2 separate regions of the Homo sapiens genome follow, and region 2 is linked to region 1. The links come from fine-mapping of genetic effects on gene expression. A gene starts in region 1. The other region holds a variant in brackets. All regions are shown on one strand. Distances are from middle to middle. Region 1 holds the start of FGR (FGR proto-oncogene, Src family tyrosine kinase). Region 2 overlaps AHDC1 (AT-hook DNA binding motif containing 1).

The links. PIP is the estimated chance that this variant, and not a neighbour inherited with it, causes the effect.
Region 2: its variant is fine-mapped to the expression of FGR in whole blood (TOPMed, PIP 0.99).

What each region holds. Positions count from the first base shown.
Region 1 is chr1:27,630,161-27,639,396 of GRCh38, forward strand. FGR (FGR proto-oncogene, Src family tyrosine kinase) reads right to left here and starts at 5,025. Exons shown (of 13, transcript NM_005248.3): 1 at 4,905-5,025. RefSeq lists enhancers at 1,742-2,242, 1,751-1,800, 1,931-2,070, 2,471-2,520, 7,149-7,208 and a silencer at 4,101-4,150.
Region 2 is chr1:27,592,630-27,601,865 of GRCh38, forward strand. All of the region lies in intron 3 of AHDC1 (AT-hook DNA binding motif containing 1), which reads right to left. Among named protein-coding and RNA genes, the nearest start is that of AHDC1, 6.9 kb to the right of the region's middle. RefSeq lists enhancers at 407-980, 981-1,554, 2,423-2,552, 3,167-3,692, 3,693-4,218 and 4 more. The variant G/A (reference allele first, on the strand shown) is at 5,537.

The sequences.
Region 1 (9,236 bases):
TTCTGCCTCAGCCTCCTGAGTAGCTGGGACTACAGGCGCGCTGCCAACACGCCTGGCTAATTTTTTGTATTTTGAGTAGAGACGGGGTTTCACCGTGTTAGCCCGGATGGTCTCGATCTCCTGACCTCGTGATCTGCCCGCCTCGGCCTCCCAAAGTGCTGGGATTACAGGCATGAGCCACTGCACCCGGCCTTTTTTGCAATTTTTTAAAGCTCATCAGCTATCATTAGTGTTAGTGTATTTTATGTGTGGCTCAAGACAATTTTTCTTCTTCCAATGCGGCCCAGGGAAGCCAAAAGATTGGACACCCCTGCAATAACGTGTGTCTCTTAAGGAGCACCTAGTGTTCTCAGCCCTGTGCCTCATGCTCTAAATCCTTGATACAGCAGGCAGGGCGCAGGTGGGGGGAGGGAGGGGCGCAGGAGAGAGAGAGAGAGAGCCATATCTGCCCAGATTTTCTCAGGCAGTCGCTGAATCTGAAGAAGCCAGGTCTCTCTTTTCTCAGCACTGAACTTCGCTGCCTGCTAATACCAGAAAGGGGGCAGCTCAGAGAGTAGCCACAGCATCATTCTGGGCACTTGGTTCTGTTTATAAATATGTCTCTTGAACATCTGGTTTACAGGAGTCGCCTCCGAGATCCCCATCAGGGTCAAAATCAGGTTACAAGTATCAAACTGAGGTCCAACCCTGGACCGCAGTGCTCCTCACTTCAACATCTGCCCTGTGGCCCTCCCCAGCTCCATTCTTCAGTAGCTCTATGACCTTGGATCTTTGACATAAGCCTCTGAGCCTTAGTTGTTGCATCTGCACCTTCTGAGTAGTTGTTGTGAGGGCTTCATGACATGTGGCTCTTGCCCGATGTGCAGTGGCCAAGTGTGACCAATAACCAAAACCAGAATGGCCCCCAGGGACCATTTACCACTCCACCTTCTCTTTTGCATAGGGGGAAGTTACTTTCCCAGGATCACACAGCCAGACAAGGGATTCAAAGTCAGGACTATTAATTCAAGTCCAGAGTTCTGTTCCCTCCCCCACTGCTGTGTTCTCCAAAGCCTGAGCAGGAGATCATGCTGTTCCTAACTAGTGAATGTCATACTTCCGGTCGAACACACCACCCCTGTCATATGGCAGCTGGTCACCCAGCAGGGAGGGACCCTGCCTCCCACTCACCCCTACTGCTGGACATAGGAACCCCAGGTCCACCCATCCTTTTTCGAGGCCCACACTTCCCAAAGCTATGCCAGTTCTTTGATGTAGACACAGGATGTCCTGCCCCCGCAACCCTCACCAAGTATCTGTGGGATCTAGAGGCAGATTTAGGCTCAAATTCTAGCCTGCCTGACAACTAGCTTAAGGCATTGGGCAAGTCAGTTCATCTCCCTGAGCGGCAGCATCTTTGCCTATAAAATAAGAATACAAATGTCCACCTCCTGGGGTTGCTTCTCAGCATCAAATGGGGTCACATCACTGAAAGCATCAGACATACAGTAAGTGCCCAGTGAACTTTCACTTCCCTCCTTTCCCTTGAGGAAGGTCCTCCGTGGCAGTGACGGTGTGGGACCAGAGGGTACAGAACTGGGCAGGGCTGAGAAGAAAGAGAAGTTCCCAGGGTGAGGTGAGAGGGCTGAGCTGGCCCAGCCGCCTGGGGGATTTCATCAAAAGGGAACCGGGACTTTGGGCAGGGGCAGGAAACCACCATCCTGCAAGAGTTCCGGCTTCTCCTCCAGGCTCTGGGCTGGCCGGGGGCAGGCCAGGGCTGGAGGGTCAGGGAGCAAGGCTGAGGTCTGCAGGTGACTCCCATCCCACTGTGCCGCATCTCTCACTAGGCCCTATCCCTCAGACCGGGCGGGCTTCCATCCCTCACCCTCAGTCCTCTCACCGAGACCCTCCACCTGGCTGAATGCCAGTGCCTTTGCTGAGGCCCCCACTGCTCATTAACTCCCTTTCTTTCTTTCTTTGTTCTTCTTCTTCTTCTTCTTCTTTTTTTTTTTTTTGAAACAGTGTCTCATTCTGTCGCCAAGGCTGGAATGCGATGGTTCGATCTCGGCTCACTGCAACCTCTGCCTCCCGGGTTCAAGCAATTCTCCTGCCTCAGCCTCCTGAGTAGCTGGGATTACAGGCGTCTGCCACCATGCCCAGCTAAATTTTTGTATTTTTAGTAGAGATGGGGTTTAGTCATGTTGGCCAGGCTGTTCTTGAACTTCTGACCTCAGGTGATCCACCCACCTCGGCCTCCTAAAGTGCTGGGATTACAGGCGTGAGCCACCGTGCCCTGCCTTCATTAACCCCCTTTCATCTCACACCATCCTTTCTTGAGGCCTCGAAACTGCCTCCTGAAGAAGACATACCCACCCAACCCTGTCTGACTCCACCACCACCGTGGTGAGGCCAGGTGTGTGCAGGATCGGGGGTGGCCTTTACCCTCCATGTGGTCCCGAGGCCATTAGCAGTTTTTTCCACTTCTTGTGGGTAAAAGTGGTTTTCCACCTGTTGCTGAAAACCACCCACCAGCCTCTAAAACACAGCTCTTTAGATGCCATCTGGCCTGGGACTCAGGATTTTCAGGAGATGGAAGCCATGGCGGCGGGGGGCGGGGGTCCAGGGGCAGCCAAGGGATGGGAGTCTAGATTTCACAGTGTGGCCAGACAGGAAGCCCCCTCCCTGGTCCCTCAGGGGAGTGGGGCGGTGAGGGGGACATCCTGCCTTTTCCCACCTTAGGTCAGCCCAGTCTGCTCTGCGTGGGAAGAGCCCTGGCCCCTACTTCCCCAGCTCTGGGGTTCCCTACCCAGCCTCCTGAGGTCTGGCCACTTCCTTTGCCACATCAGCCCCAGGTGGCTGCAGAGATCACCCAAACATCCACTCATATGCTCAAGGGTTCATGCTCATTCACTCAGAGCCCAAAACATACAAACACTCACACCCTCACTGGAGGAGGGTGTGAGAGCACCTACTCACTGGAACAGGAAGTAGTCATGAAGCCCCTAAACCCCACACCCTCCTCCCCGGAGGGTACATGAAACTTGGTAGGGATGAGGTAAGGATTCAGGCCTCAGCTCAGGCTACATCAGAGACGAGATGTCCTGGAATTCTGGTCCCTACTGTTGGCCCTGCAGGTTGCCAACTCCCAAACCTCCATCTTCCCATCTGTGAAGTGGGAACAGGGTCCTGCTCTCCCATCATCACCACAGTCGGAAGGATGCCAAGGACATCAGGGCCCCTGAGAGTACACACCCGAGGGGCGGCCAACTGGATGCAGCACCAGAGAGGGTGTGAGACAGATTTTAACTCTGCTGACCTCCCCAGTATGGGCTCTCATCAGAGCCATAAACTATTTAGACGCCAACTGTGTGCTGGTCCCTGGAGGCCCTGTCAGTGAGAGCCGGGCAGTCTGGTCCCCCTCCATGCTTTTTGTTGTTGTTGTTGTTTACAGACAAAATCTCACTCTCTCATCCAGGAGCTCTCACTGCAGCCTTGAACTCGTGGGCTCCAGCGATCCTCCGGCCTCAGCCTCTGGAGTAGCTGGGACTACAGCAGGTGCCACCACTTCCAGCCTTCTGGCTAACTATATTTTTTTGTAGAGACAGGACGGGGGTCTCCCTGTGCTGCCCAGGCTGGCCTCCTCTGCATGTTTTTGAGAAGGTGAAGGGGAGGCTCGCTGAGTCAGGGATAGCCCTTAACCCTTCAGGACACTCAGCAAAAACTGCTTTCTGCACCTGATTCTCGTGGGGGAAGAGTGGACACAAGGATCATTTCTCACCATAGTTCAGATGAGGAAAGTGAGGCCCAGAGAAGCCCTGTAACTTGCCCACAGTCACACAGCAATTAAGGGCCCAGTCTTGCTAAGAACCCAGGTCTCTCAAACAGCAGATCCTCCACCCCAGGATCCCTGAACACAGCGGCATCGCCTCCTACCTCGGTCGGGAAGCCCACCCCCCACCCACCAGACCGAGGATTCCAAAAGGGGGCGAAGGCGGAGAGCAAAGGGGGCTGCGCCCACCCGGAGCCCCGCGGCGGCCCAGCGCGGCCCGCCCTCTCGTTGCCTTGGAGGCAGCCCCTGCGGGCACTCGCGGTCAAAGGCAGGATTTCCGTCGGGGCGGCAGCAATTCCCGGATCCAGCGGGGAGCGCGGGCCGAGACCGCCGCGGGCGCGGAGGGGGCGCCCGGAGAGGCCTGTCCCTGCCGAGGGCGGGGACTTCCCCAGGAAGCGGGGACCCACGCCTCGCGCGCCCGGCAGGAGTCCCCTGCAGCCCGGAACCTACCGCAAGGGCGGGCCGAGAGGGTCGCGGGGCCGCGGTCGCGGCCGCTAACGTTACCCTGCGGGCTGTGGGCTTCACCCCGACTTCGGCCGGCTCGGAAGAGGGGAACTTCCTGGACCCGCAATTGCACCCCAGGTTCTCCGTCCTCCAGAAGTCGTTCTCCTCAACCCCCTTCCCGCCAGCTCCCTCTCCTGTTCCCTCCAGCACCCCCACCCATTTCCCCTCTCCTGGACCCATCAGACCCGTCGGCTTCTCCCCAAAGTCCCACTCTCACGATCCCTTCAGTTTCTCCCCCAGACCGTCCTGGGGATTCCCCTTAATCCTTCTCCCCCACCTCAGCCCCCTTCCTAAACTCTTATCAGTCCCCTCCATTTTACCCACTAGACCTTTTTGGGGGTCCCTTTGGTCGGCTTCCCCCGTGCTCCCCTCCGCCCTCTCCTCCAGGTTTATCAGCCTTGCTTTTCAGGTCGCCCGTTTTCCTCCTTAGGCCTTTTCGGGCTGGGGTCCCTTTGGCTGTCACCTTGCTCATGTGTCCCCCGACCCCCAGGTTCAGGCTTCTCTTCCCGTGTACCCCCAGTCCTCTCTCCAGAGCCTCGAGGGGGAGGGCACTGCTTGACCTGCCCAGTCCCCACCCGACGCTGTCGCTTACCTGGAGCCCAATTCTGCCCGGCCCCGGGGTGAGCCAGCCGGGGCTCCAGCAGCCGCGAGTGCCGGCGTGCGGGGAGAACTGGGGTGCTGCCCGCCTCTGACCGCCGCCCCTGCTGGGCAGGGAGGAGGAAGCCGCCTCGGACTTCTCTTATTGCAGTCACGGCCGGCGGGCGGTGATGGTGGCAGGGAGACAGTCACGCCCTAGCCCCAAGCCAGCTCCCCGCAGCGAGGAGGCGCCCCCAGATCCTAGGCCCACCCGCCCCCACCTTCCTCCTCCCTGGTTTACGGGAGGTCGGCTCTGTCACCCTCCAGACCTGAGTCCCCAGCCCGGCCTTCCCAAAAGCCCCCTCCAAAAGCGCAGTTTCAGCACCCCCGAAGCACCTGCTCTTTTAGGATCATTGAATTGGAGGTTAAGAGGGGCTTTTCTCCATCACTGAGGACCAGATCGGGACTGGCCTTACTCGAGTTCTCACAGCCAGTTGACTTCAGACTGCTGTCACCAGAGCCACTGGACATGGATCACATGGACCCTGTCAGCACGCCTTCCCTTCCTCAGGGGCTGAGCACTGGGGACACAGGGCTGTTAAGGGTGGTGAGCAGCAGAAGACCCTTCCCTTAGGAAACTGCCTTTCAGAGGAGTGGGAAGGGTGTCAGCCTCCCCCAGGCACCCAAGTTTTAGAAAAACTGAGTAACTGGCTGGGGGCAGTGGCTCAGCCTGTAATCCCAGCACTTTGGGAGGTTGGGTGGGAGGATTGCTTGAGCCCAGGAATTCCAGACCAGCCTAGGCAGCATAGGGAGACACCATCTCTACCAAAAAAAATTTTTCTTAAGTTAGCTCGGTGTGGTGGTGTGCACCTGTGGTCCCAGCTACTGCAGAGGCAGAGGTGGAAGGATCCCTCGAGTCAGGCAGGTCGAGGCTGCAGTGAGCTGTGATTGAGCTACTGCACTCTACCTTGGGTGACAGAGCAAGACCCTGCCTTAAAAAAAAAAAACACAAAAAAAGAATGTGGGTTTTGTTGCAGAAAATGACTTTTTTTAAAAAAAAGAAAGAAAAGGCCGGGTGCAGCGGCTCACGCCTGTAATCCCAGCACTTTGGGAGGCCGAGGCGGGTGGATCACGATGTTAGGAGATCAAGACCGTCCTGGCTAACACAGTGAAAGCCCATCTCTACTAAAAATCAAAAAATTAGCCGGGCGTGGTGGCGGGCGCCTGTAGTCTCAGCTACTCAGGAGGCTGAGGCAGGAGAATGGTGTGAACCCGGGAGGCGGAGCTTGCAGTGAGCCGAGATGGCGCCACTGCACTCCAGCCTGGGCGACAGAGCGAGACTCCGTCTCAAGAAAAAAAAAAAAAAAAAAAAAAAGGAAGAAAAACTGAGTATCTTAGAACATGTGGAAAAAGATTTTTAAAAACAAAAAGAGAAACGGTAGCATCCTCTATCAGTTCCAGTCTCTCTGTCTGATAGGGATCCCTGACCCCTCCTCAATCTGGGGTTCAGTCCCCACTCCCACCACTGTTACTTCAGCCTTAAAGCAAGAACCCGGAATATCCCTCCTGTCCAGGAGAGGAAGAGGTGTGGTGGGGAGGGCTGTTTGGTGGAGAAGGATGTGTCTGTTGGGATGTGGTGAGAGGCAGGGAGAGTGTGCGTAAACACAGAAGTGTGTGTGTGTGTGTGTGTGTGTGAGAGAGAGAGAGAGAGAGAAAGCAATGACATGATGACTTTGCTTTTGGAATCAACAACTAGGCCATGGTGTGCAGGCAAGTGTGTTTCTTTGTATGGGCAGGGGCATGTGGGGATGTGTGTGTGCATGCGTACACATGCTCAAGTGTGGCCCAATGTGCCTGGGGTAACAGAGTGGTGGGATGGAGATAAGAATGCTTTTCTCTTAGGAAATGGGAGGAGGGATGAGGAGGAAGACAGAGGAGCCAGTGGCAGTGCAGGGTCTCTGGAAGAGTGGCTTCACCCTAGCCGGGCAGCATCACCTCCGCCATCAAATGCTCCCTGCCTGGCCATCGGCCCACATGTTCAATTAGCAAACAAGCAAACGTTTATAATTGTGTCTTAGGTGCCAGCCTTAGGGAACACAGAGATGAGAGACTGGTCCCTGCTCTTGGGGGATCCCCCCAATCTATCATGCTCGCTCTGTCATCCTTCAAGGTCTGACTCACAAGCATCTGCTCTAGAGGCCTTCCCTGATTGCTGCCTCTACCCACTCCACACCCCCAGCAGAACCTCAGCATCTTCTGCCTGGGGCACCACTGGTTCCTGGGGGATGGGTGTGTGGGATATGTTTTCCTCAAGGGCAGGGGTCTGGCTCTTGTAGATGCCTCCAGTACCCACACAAGGCCCAGCACACAGTAGCAGGCTTTCTGTGTATAGGAACACGTGAATCAACCAAAGGACAAAGGAATTAACAGATGAACAAAGGAAAGCCCAGTGAAAAACTAAATAATGGAAGGTAAGAAAGAATGAATGAAGAAATTCAAGAATTGATGACTGAATAAGCAAATGAATGGAAGAACAAAATGACAACATTGCTTCTCAGGCCGGGCTCGGTGGCTGACGCCTGTAATCCCATTGTTTTGGGAGGCTGAGGCGGGCGAATCACTTGAGGTCAGGAGATCGAGACCAGCCTGGCCAATTTGGTGAAGCCCCGCCTCTACTAAAAATACCAAAATTAGCTGGGTGTGGTGCCGGTGCCTGTAATCCCAGCTACTCAGGAGGCTGAGGCAGGAGAATCGTTTGAACCCAGGAGGCGGAGGTTGCAGTGAGCGGAGATCACGGCACTGGACTTCAGCCTGGGCGACAAAGCAAGACTCCGTCTCAAAAAAAAAAATTGCTTCTACTTTTTAAAATATGTGTTGGGCCACATTAGTCCCTTGCTTAAAATCTCCCAGTGCCTTACCTTTCATTTTGCTTGGAAAAATAAAAATACAATACATACGATACCATAATAATAAAGAATAATAAAATCCAGCAGCTTTGTCTTGTCCTCTGAGGCCCTGTGTGCTTGGCCCCTGCCTCCTCTCCAGTCCCAGCTTTAGCCATCTTTCCCTTTACCCACATTTGGATCTTTTTCAGTTCCTAGAATACACTGAATTTTTGTCTCACAGTCTTTTTACATGGTGTTCCCTCTTCCTAGGATGCTCTTCTTCTTGCTCTTCACAGTACTGCTTCCTTTTTATTCTTCAATTGAAGTGCCGTCTCCTCAGGGAAGCCTCCCCTGACTGCCACATCTAAGAAGGTCTCCTTATTCTCGGTCTCAGCATCCAGTTTGTCTCCTCTATGGCTATCACAATCTGGAATTATATATTTCTGTGTTCATTGTTTTTTGTCTCTGGACCTCTCTAAACCAGATTAGGGCTCTGACCCAATCTGAGGTCAGGAGACAGCTGGCACTTCTTAGGACGAGCAAAGTGGATTCTATGCCCTCATTCATCCTTTCAGAATAACCTTGATTAGGAACACAGACTCTGGGCCCAGGCTGCCTGGTTTGCAGACCAACTCTGACCTTGGACAAGTTATTTCACCTTTTTTTTTTTTTTTTTTTTTTAGACAGAGTCTTGCTCTGTCTCCCAGGCTGGAGTGCAGTGATGTGATCTTGGCTCACTGTAACTCCCAGGTTCAAGCGATTCTCCTGCCTCAGCCTCTTGAGTGTCTGGGATTACAGGCGTGAGCCACCACACCCAGCTAATTTTTGTATTTTTAGTAGAGACAGGGTTTCGCTCTGTTGGCCAGGCTGGTCTCAAACTCCTGACCTCAACTGATCCACCTGCCTTGGCCTCCCAAAGTGCTGGGATTATAGGTGTGGGCCACCGCGCCCTGCCCAAGTTATTTCACCTTTCTGTACCTCAGTTTCCTCATATGTAAAATGGAAATTTAGTAGACCTCACCTCACAGAAGTCTTGAGAGAAATCAGTGAGCTGTTAGAGGAGTGTTTGGCACATAGTAAATACCACATAAGTGTTCACTATCATTCATTCATTCATTCATTCATTCAATTAAACCTCAACTCTCTGACCACAGTTTCCTATCCTTTCAGCCCATGTATTCACAAGCTCCTTGAAAACAATTCTAAGTCAGGTATGGTGGCTCACACCTGTAATCCCAGAACTTTGGGAGGCTGAGACAGGAGGATCACTTGAAGCCAGGAGTTCGAGACCAGCCTGGGCAGCCCAGGAGTTCGAGGCTGCAGTGAGCCATGGTTGTACCACTGCACTCTAGGCTGGGTGACAGAGCAAGACCCTGTCTCTAAATAAATAAATAAAACAATTCTAAAAACTGATACCAAAATCAAAAATCAAAGCCCAGCAAGCCCAATGAGACCTCTCTCAT
Region 2 (9,236 bases), 38 kb before region 1:
AGCAGAATGGGGCAGGAAGGAGGGGGCTCCCCAGCTGGCTGGCCTTGACCACCCTTGCACCCCTCTGGACTCGGTTGCTCCATCTGCAAAATGGAGGGGCCGGAACGCAGGAGGCCCCTGTAGACAGGTCATCCCTCTCTAGCCTGGATTGGCTGAGCCGGCTGCCGGTTAACCTGTGAGGGCTGGGGGTGGGACGAAAGGACCCAGGGTTTCTGGGTTCTTCCGCACTCCTCTACCTCGGGCCCAGCTCAGAGAGGCTTGGGCCCCTGGCCCAAGCTCACACAGCAGACGAGGAGGCGCAGGCTGGACGGGAGAGGGGCTCTGCCAAAGGCCTGCCAGCTGGAGGTTCCATACTGGGTGACCCAAGGTGACCAGGGGCAGAGTTGGCCCCACCTCCGAGCTGCATTATTTATAAAACCCAGAGCAAGGAGCTGAGCAACAGCTGCGGTGCTGCCCCTCCAGGGGACACAGGCCTCGGTGGAACGGAGTAGACACGGTGTCTCCTCAGGGAAGGCCCCTAGGGTCCCGGGCTCCCTCCAGGGCTGGCTGGGGCAGGGGCTGAGGTGGGGAAGGGGGAGCAGCTCCGTCCCTCCCCTCCCCCTCCACTCCTCCAGGCAGGCAGCGATAGGATTACTTCTGCATGACTGCCCGCTCCACAGGGTTCCAGAGACCCTCCTGCCTGCAGCAATCTTTAAAATTCCTCCAGCCCAACCTCTCTCCCTCTCTCCCTGCAGTGAATGCCCCAGAGTCTACCGCAGTGTGCCCACTGCTGCCGCCACCACTACCCCCAGGCAGGCTGGGACCCAGGTCCCTGGTGTCCATGGGCAAAGATGGACCCATTCTCAGGGCGTAGCCGTGTGTCCCTCAGAACCCTAAGACCCAGGCCCTGGCCCATTCCCTCTGGCCCTTGGTGCTGCCCCAGTCCCACAGCCACGGCTCCAGCTGGGGTCAGGCATGCCAGCTGTGCCAGGGCGGATGGGCACATATGTGCAAACACCCCCGGTGGGTCTTGGCATGCCTGCCCATGGGCTTTGCTGCCAGAACCTGGCTGCCCCACCTCTGCTCTGAACCCCTCCCTATCTCACCAATCCCTGCTATCCCCCCAGGGTGGGCAGACAGCTGGGCTAAGCCAGTGCCTGCGGCTCCCCAGGGCACAAGAGGCAGGCAGGAGATCGATTCACTGAATTTTTTAAGGCCCTAATGGAGCCTGCATCCCAGGACTTGCTGGGCTGGGACACAGGCGATGTCTTGGGGACCCTTCCCACAGCACTGCAGTTGCTTCTTCTTTAGGGTCTTGGGGATCAGTGGAGCCCTTCTGTGAGCCTTCCCTCAGCAAGAGAGGAGGCACGAGGGACCTCTAGGAAAGAGAAGGGATTTGGGGGCTGTGAGCAATACCCAGAGCCCCCCTATCTCCCCAGTCCTAATGCAGGCAGAAGCAGCTCAGCCTCTAAATCACTCCCCTCATGCTGCCCTCTGAGGCGGATTCTGTGCATCTGTAATTAGGGGGTGGAACAGATGGTGGAGATTCCGTTTAAAATCATGCATCTAGTAAAGTAACCTTCACTGTCGGAACTGACTCCCAGGGAGACCAAGCCCCGCAGCCTGGATTTGGGGGTGGGGGGTAGTATGTCAATCCAGCACCTTCCCCATCCCTCTCCCTGAAGCCCCAGGCCCCATGTCCCTCTCAGGTGAGCCAAGGGGTTGGGGGAGGGAGGCAGTGATTTGGCAAGCACTTGAAAAAGTGTGGGCTGGGGGCAACTCCCCCTGTCCCTCTCTCCCACATACATGCCAGAGCCAGGGCAGGGCTGGGTACTGAGAGTTCCTGGCTGAAAGACCAGGATGACCAGGTGCCAAGGGGCTCTGCCCCCACCCCAAAGAGGCCCCAAACCTTTAAGCCCAGGCCAGGGTGCCCAGAGCACAGGGTCTTGGGTGGGGCAGCTTTGAACCAGATGTCCAGCCTCACTGTCCAGGAATGAAAGGCCTGGGGCGGTGAAGGGGTGGAGATGCCTCCCCAGGCAGAGGAGGCTCTGGGAAGAGCGGGAGGCCTGGGCAGCAGAGAGAGAGAGAGCGAGAGCACACAAGAGTGAGCAATGTGTGTGACAGGCTGAGGCTGTCTAGGGGAACAAGGTGGGGGAGAGGGTGTGCTGGAATGTGCCAACGGTGGGAGTGAGGGCTGCAGAAGGATTAGGCGGGGTATGTGACAGGGTGCCGTGGGGTGCAGGCGGAGCACAGAATGGGTGCAGGGTTGTGACTAGCTGAGGCTGTCTTTGTGTACAGGTGTGGTATCGGGGTGTTTGGAGAGGTGTAGGGGTGTCCCTGGGCCCTTAGGTGGCTGAGGAAAAGTACCGGAGCTGAGACTGTCTGGGAAGCGGTGGGGCCGGGCCATTAGGACTGCCTGTCGAGGAGGTGCCGGGATCCAGGAGGCAGTGTGCACAAGTTTCAGGAGGTATTAGAAGCTTCGGGGCCTGATCTGTTAGAGATATACTAGAACCGAAGCCATGTCTGTGTGTTTGAGGCAAATGTTGTGGCTACAGAGGGTGTTCTTGTTTGAGTGGGTGTTTGAAGCAGTGAGTGTATGTGTGTTGTAGGGGGAGGCTGTATGTTTGGAAAGGTATAGGGGATGATACCGGTGTTTGGGGAAGTGCTGAGCTATAGCTGGGAGAAACGTTGGGGGCTGTGGGCAGAGTGTGTGTGTCTGGGGAGGTGTCAGGGCTTTGAGGGTATGAGTCAGTGGGAAGGTAGCAGGGCTGTAGCTGGGTCCTGGGTGTATCTGGCAGTGTTGGGGTTGGATAGGGGGTTGATATGCTGAGGGTGTGATAGCTGTGTGTGTGTGTGTGTGTGATTGTGTGTGTGTTGGGGTGTTTAGGGATGTATTGGGGGGTCATAAAAATGTGGGTTTTGGTTAAGTACTAGGGCTGTGAACATGTGCCTGGAAAGGTGTTGTGGTTGGTGGAGGATGCACTGTGGTTTTGGGGAGGAGCTGGGGAGTGTCTCTGGAAAGGTTATTGGGATTTTAATTGGGTACCTGCAAGGGTCTGGGGAGGCGTTAGAGACCTGAGGTCCCTCCATACGTGGGAAGGGAAGAATGGGTCTCTGATATCAGAGATGTGCCACAGGCTATCGTCCGTGCATGCACAGGTATGAGGGCTGTAACCAGGTTCCTGGTGTCAGGGAGGTGTTGCAGGTTGTGGGTAAGCATGTGGTGGTTGTGTGTTTGGGGGTATGTGCATGTGAGGTAGCTGGATGTCGGGGGGTATCTGTATGTAGAGTGTGTGTGTGGAAGTGTGTGGGCTGGGTGTTGTAGGTGGAGCAGTTGTGTTTTAGAGGTGTTAGAGCTGTGAGTGTGTATGTGGGGCAGTTGTCTATTTAGAAGGTGTTGGGAGCTGTAACTGAGTCCCTGGACCCCAGAGAGGTGATGGGGCTGCAGGGTTTGTGTGTGTTAGGGGGGATGCCCCTCTGGGAGAATGAAGGGCAGCATCCTGGCCTTTGCTCCGGGGCCTAACTGGGGGCTACCCGCTAGAACCCCTATGGTATGGGGTGCCTGTGCGGGGGTGTTGAGACAGGCAGTCCATCTGTCTCAGCCTGTGCCCAGGCCCAAGGAGCAGAGCTGCCTCCTCGCTCCCTGGGGGGCAGCAGCGGATCCAAGCCCACCCATCTGCCTTCAGATGGTCGAGGCAGGAGCCTCCACAAAGCTGCCTGGAGGGCAGCACTGCGTTTGAAGAGACACAGGCTGGGGGTGGGGGAACTGCACAGCAAACAGTCCTCACGGAGGCTCCTTTAAAAACCACTGACGCCAGAAGAGAGGAAGAGGGAGGACAGGGGCGGGTATGTCTGTCCTTGTGCATCTGTGTGGGTCAGTGCCCAACTTCCAGGCCGGGGGCCCCTTCCCACGTGCTTGTGCTGGATGTTCCTGTTCAGGTAGCACTCAGGCCTTGGAAAACACTGCTCCAATCCAGGCAACAGGCTCCCAGCCTCACACCTGAACTACACCCTCATATCTGCATAGTCCCTACACTCACACGCACTCATACACCTTCCCACATGCATGCCTGCCACTGCACGCTCACACATGCAGTTTGCCCCATGCCCTTAAACCTTCATATATGTACCCCCATCACACATACCCCACCCTGCAAAACCCACAGTTACACACACCCATCTTACACACACACCTATCACATAAACGTGCATCCACACATACATACCTGACAAGTCACTCTCACACACACACCCACACACTCCACACACCTTGGAGCTCCCTGTCACACCCGTACCCTATCTCACATACACCCAGTCTCTCTCACACTCCATGAGGACACTCGCCATCCCTTCTACCTGCACATGCAAGCACATGTTTATACACATATGCCTCACCACCTTTGAGACAGCTCCCCACTACCCAAGCCACTGGGCATTTCTCTGTGTCCAGGTCAGGCCCTGAAGCTTTCCAGAAGGGCTCTCACCGACTGAGAGGACCTTCTGCCTCCCCACCTTGCCAGCCGGGTTAGAGTATGGGGGTGGGGGGCAGGTGGCAGGGGGAGGTTCTGTGTGCTCTGGTGTGACTGCCACTGTATGTAGGAGGGTGTCCCATGACAGGGCCTGTGAGTCAACACCTGTACAGGGAAGGAAGCACAGGTGCGTGTTCACCAGCTATGTTCGTGAGATGCAGAATGAGTGTGAGGGTGGAGATTTACATGTCACAAATTTGTGTGTGTGTGTGTGTGTGACAGTGTGAGAGTGTGTGTGTGAGAGAGAGAGAGAGAGAGACGCAGGGCCTGTGTAGACAGGTGTGACCGTGGGGGCTGCGTTTATACGAGGGGCATCCCCCGGGTGAATGTGAGGGGGTGTTTCCCAAGACAAGAGAGGTGCACATGTGCATCTGGTGCAGGGGTCAGGGCTGCAGGCCTCTCAGCAACCCCCTCCCCCTATGAAAAGAGGAGCAGGGAGCAAGGGGCTCTGGGCGGCTTCTCTCTCTTGCTCTTTCTCCCTGACCTCTTTAGCAGCTGGAAACTGAGCCGGGGGTGGAAGGAATGGAGACTTGGCTGGCCTGGGGGTTTGGGGAGGGAAGAGGGAGAAAACACCTTCCAGATTCTCATCAAATCCCTGTTTGTGGTTTGCAGCCTGCAGTCTTCTCCCTCCCTCTCCCTCCCTCTCTCTGTCTGTCTGGGTTTCCCCCTTTCTTTATCTCTTCCTGTCTCTCAGCCTCCCCATCTCTCTCCTTCTCCATCTCAGTCACTCTGTCTCCTTTCTTTTCTCTAAGTCTCTGTCTTCCATTTTTCTGCCTCCTCCTCTCTCTGCCAGCACCTCTGTCTGTCCGTCTCTCCCTGTCCCAGTCCATCTGTCCGTCTCTCTCCGTCTGTCTGTGTGTGGGTGTCTCTGTCCATCTGTTTCACCACCCATCTGTCTGGCTGTCTGTGTTAGTCCTTCCAAGGGTGCCCACTCGCTCCCCAAGGCACCCTCCCCCAGGTCAGCAAGGCCTCTCCTGGCTCAGGGGGTGGGGAGGGGGTGCAGAGCTGCAGCTTCTGGAAGCTTCAGT[G/A]GCAGCTGGGCTGAATTGGGAGTTCGGGGCCAGCCAGCTGCAGAAGCAGCCCCTCCCCTGGGCTCCCAGGCCAAGGACCCCAGAGCAGAAGAGGAGAGAAAACAGGGCCTCATTGCAGTTGGGTTTGTGTGTGTGGTGGAGGGGGCTGGAAGGGGGCTGGAGGGAGGCAGGGCCTCACTTTACTCTCACTTCACCATTGCCCCCGGAGCCAGGCCCTGCAGGAGAGGGATCCTTGATGCCCACCTTCCTCATCCCCTGGCCAATGGAAGAGATGCTGGGATCCAGGAGGGAGGGGCCAGGAGAGGCCAGGCCTTGGGCGAAGGAGGGGCTGGGAGCCAGGGCTTCCTGTCAGCTGGGCTGGAGGGGGGCTCCTTCCCTCCTCCTTTCCAGGCAGTCCCTGGGGACCCCTCCTGCTCTGGTCCCAGTTCCAGGCATGAGGGGTTGTTCTTGCCAACTGCACTGGGGCCATTCCCACCTCCATCTACCCATAGGGACGTGGGGGGATCACACCAGTGTCACCCCCACAACAGTGGAGGCTGGTTTTGGCCATGTAGTGACCCTGGCCCTGTCTAGGCACTGGCCATCCTGAATCTAGCACCTCACACACAAATATATACAGTGCATCCCAGTGCTCACCGCCTGCCCAAGCCCCCCAACACCAGCATCCACCGTCATGACATGAACGCAGAGACCAGCACCCTACCTTGCACTGGTGACAGCGCCCCCGTCACAAAGCCAGCAGCTTCAGACAGCATCCCTTAACATTCTCCCTGGCTACTCTGTCCCTGTCCCCCACTCCCTCTCCAATAGCTCACAGTCCAAATCCCACAATGGATGGGGAAACTGAGGCCCAAGAGGAAGGGATGGGAGGACACAGTCATCCCTCCTGAGACCCTGGGGTAGGATCATAAATGAGGAAAGAAGAAAGAGATGCTGCAGGGGCAGAATCAGGCTCCTTCCTGACCTACCATGGGTAAAGTCCATATTGGCTACACCCTCCACACAGCCCTACCACAGGGCCAGGGCCAGGGCCAGGGCCAGGGGCTGGCTCCCTCCCTCTCGAGCTCTCCTTGCCCCTGGTTGGGCCCCCTCCCTCTCCTCCCTTCTGAGCAGCCCTCCCTGCCCTCTCCCTCCCAGCTCTGGCTCTCTCATCCTCAGCTCTTGGAAGCCTGACTCACTGTTTCCCCTCCTCTCTCGCCTCCCTCCCTCTCTCTCCCGGCAGCAGCGGCGCCTCCCCCTCCCCTGGGGGGGCTCTGGCCACAAGGGTGCCTGCCTGCTTCTCTCCCCAGGCTCCGGCCCCCTCCACTCCCAGGAGGCCCCCTGCAGCTGTTCCAATTCTCTAACTACAGTGAGGTGGAGTGCAAACAGCCCAGGTCCCAGCCTGGTCTTGCCAAAGGTATCTGTGACCCTGAGCAAGTGGCTCCTCTCCCTAGACTTGGCTTTCTCTCGTCAAACAAGTGGGGGGCGTCCAACTGGATGATGCTCCTGGCACCTCTGGGACCCTAATGTTTCCCGCTTTTATAACCTGGGTGTCTTTTGGCACAGAGCACCTGACAACCTGTAGGGTGCAGTACCTGCCACAGGCCACGCCCCCCCGGGTCCCAAGAAAAGCTCAGCTCTGTTCCAGGCATTTGGGGAGGGCAGAAGGGAGATGCTACCCTGGGACCTGAAACATTTGTTGAAAACCCTGGAATCTGTCTCCCCATTCTCCCTCCTCCTGTGAGAGTCTCTCTCTCTCTCCCACCTGTCCTCCTCCCTCTTCCCAAACATCTGCTTGTCTCTCCTCCAAAAACAACCCCAGAATCTGATCTTGGGTGAGAGGACCTCAGGGCTGCCTCCTCTCTGGCTCCAGGGAGGGGAGTGGTATATTCCTAGGCCTTCTTGGTCCCCGGCCCCCACCTCCAGGGGCTGTAATTCCAGATTTTCTTGCCTGTTTTCTCTTTCACTCTCATCACTGGCTTTGGTCTCCATCTTTCTCTCTCTTCACCATGCATGTGGTTGTGGGTCGCTCCCCCGCCCCCCTCCCTGGGGGGGGCCCATCTGCAGGCATTAGCAACAATGTTACCCTTGCTTCCTCCCATAGTCCCCAGCTCCACTCCATCCTGGCTTCCGCCTCCCCACTCTGTCCCAAGAGACCCAGGGGACCCAGAGACAGAGCTGGGCTCCATCCCATAATAGTGAGTCTGCTTGACCTCACCAAGCCAGACCAGAAGGGCCTGGGCATCTGGTACACAGGCATGGCACCCCCTGGTCTTGGGTGGCTGGCATGAGACACAGAGCTCTGTGTTCTACAAACCAAAAAAAAAAAACAAAAAAAATTGAAATTGACCTGGGGGTGGGACAGAAGAGGGGAAGGGGGAAATGAGGGAGATCAGGTTTGCCTGGAGGAAGCCCCTGTCCAATGGGGAACAGAAGCATAGAGGTGGGAGTGGTTCAAAGTCAGTGCTCCAGGCTGATTGGAGAACAACAATGTCCCTCTGGGGCTCTGCCAGTCCAGAACAGCTCCCCCTACCCAAATGTCTTCTGCCAGGGGCAGTCTGCCCCTCAAGCCTCCAGCACAACCACAGCAATCAGGTGGAGACCCCATCTTTTAACCTTTTGAATCCAAGTCCAACTTCCCTACTGTACACCTCCACTTAGCTCAGCAGGGGGTTCCAGAAGCCTCCCAGCCCAGATCTAAGCCCATGCAGTGGGGGTAACAAAGTCCCCCAGCTCCCAAACCCCTTCCCCAAAGGCCCCATCAAGGGCTGGGGAGCAATGCAAAATAACCCCAGAACCCTCACGCATTGAAACTGAGAAGCTATGCTGTCCCACAGCGCCTGAGGGTGGTAGGGGCTCCCTGCCCCCACGACCCTGTTCCAGACCCCCCAGCCCAGCAACAATAATAAACAGCAAGCTCTTTTTCTTTATGACACCAAATTTCTCCAAGCCCAACAGCTCCTTCCATCACTACCTCAGCCATAGATCACATTAAAAACTCACAGAGGGCAACTTAAACACATCACATTTGTTTCTCTCTATATTATTTCAAAAGTAACGGCATTAAAAATGGATTTTACTACAGAAAATAAATATCGGCACGTGGGCTGGGAGCCCAGGCGGAGGAGAGCGCCCACCAGGGGAACGTTCCTGAGGGCTTGGGCACAGTTAGGCACTGACCAGACTAGAAAGGCCAGACTACACCTTGGGCTTGTGGGTGATTCCTGGGGAGGGGGCAATGCCTGCCCACCTGGGCATCTGCCCCAAAGCCAGATGAAGAAGGACAACTCACTGGTTTGGGCTGGTAGCCACTGGTCCCCCAAAGCTTATGCCCTTACTGGTCTTTGCAACCCCTGAAGAGTGGGAGCTCTGGGGCCAGAAGTTCACCAGTCTCTGGGGATTACTCCAACTATTGACACAGCAGGAGAAAAAAATGAATTCAACTTACTATCCAGTTTGATTTTCCATTACTATAAAAATAAATATACATCTGCTCAAAGGAGGGAGATGGCAAGCAGCATGCACATGCCACCTGGGGGGTCCCCCCACAACCCAGCCTTCCTACCCCCCCACCCCAGGTTGGGGGACAGACTGGTAATCTTTCACTTACAGCCCCAGCTCACACAGCCACACAGAACAGGAACAAGCCAACAATAGAAACACCCCAAATGCCCCTGGCAGGACTCTGCCCAGGCCCGGGCACATGCCCCCGCCCAGCCGG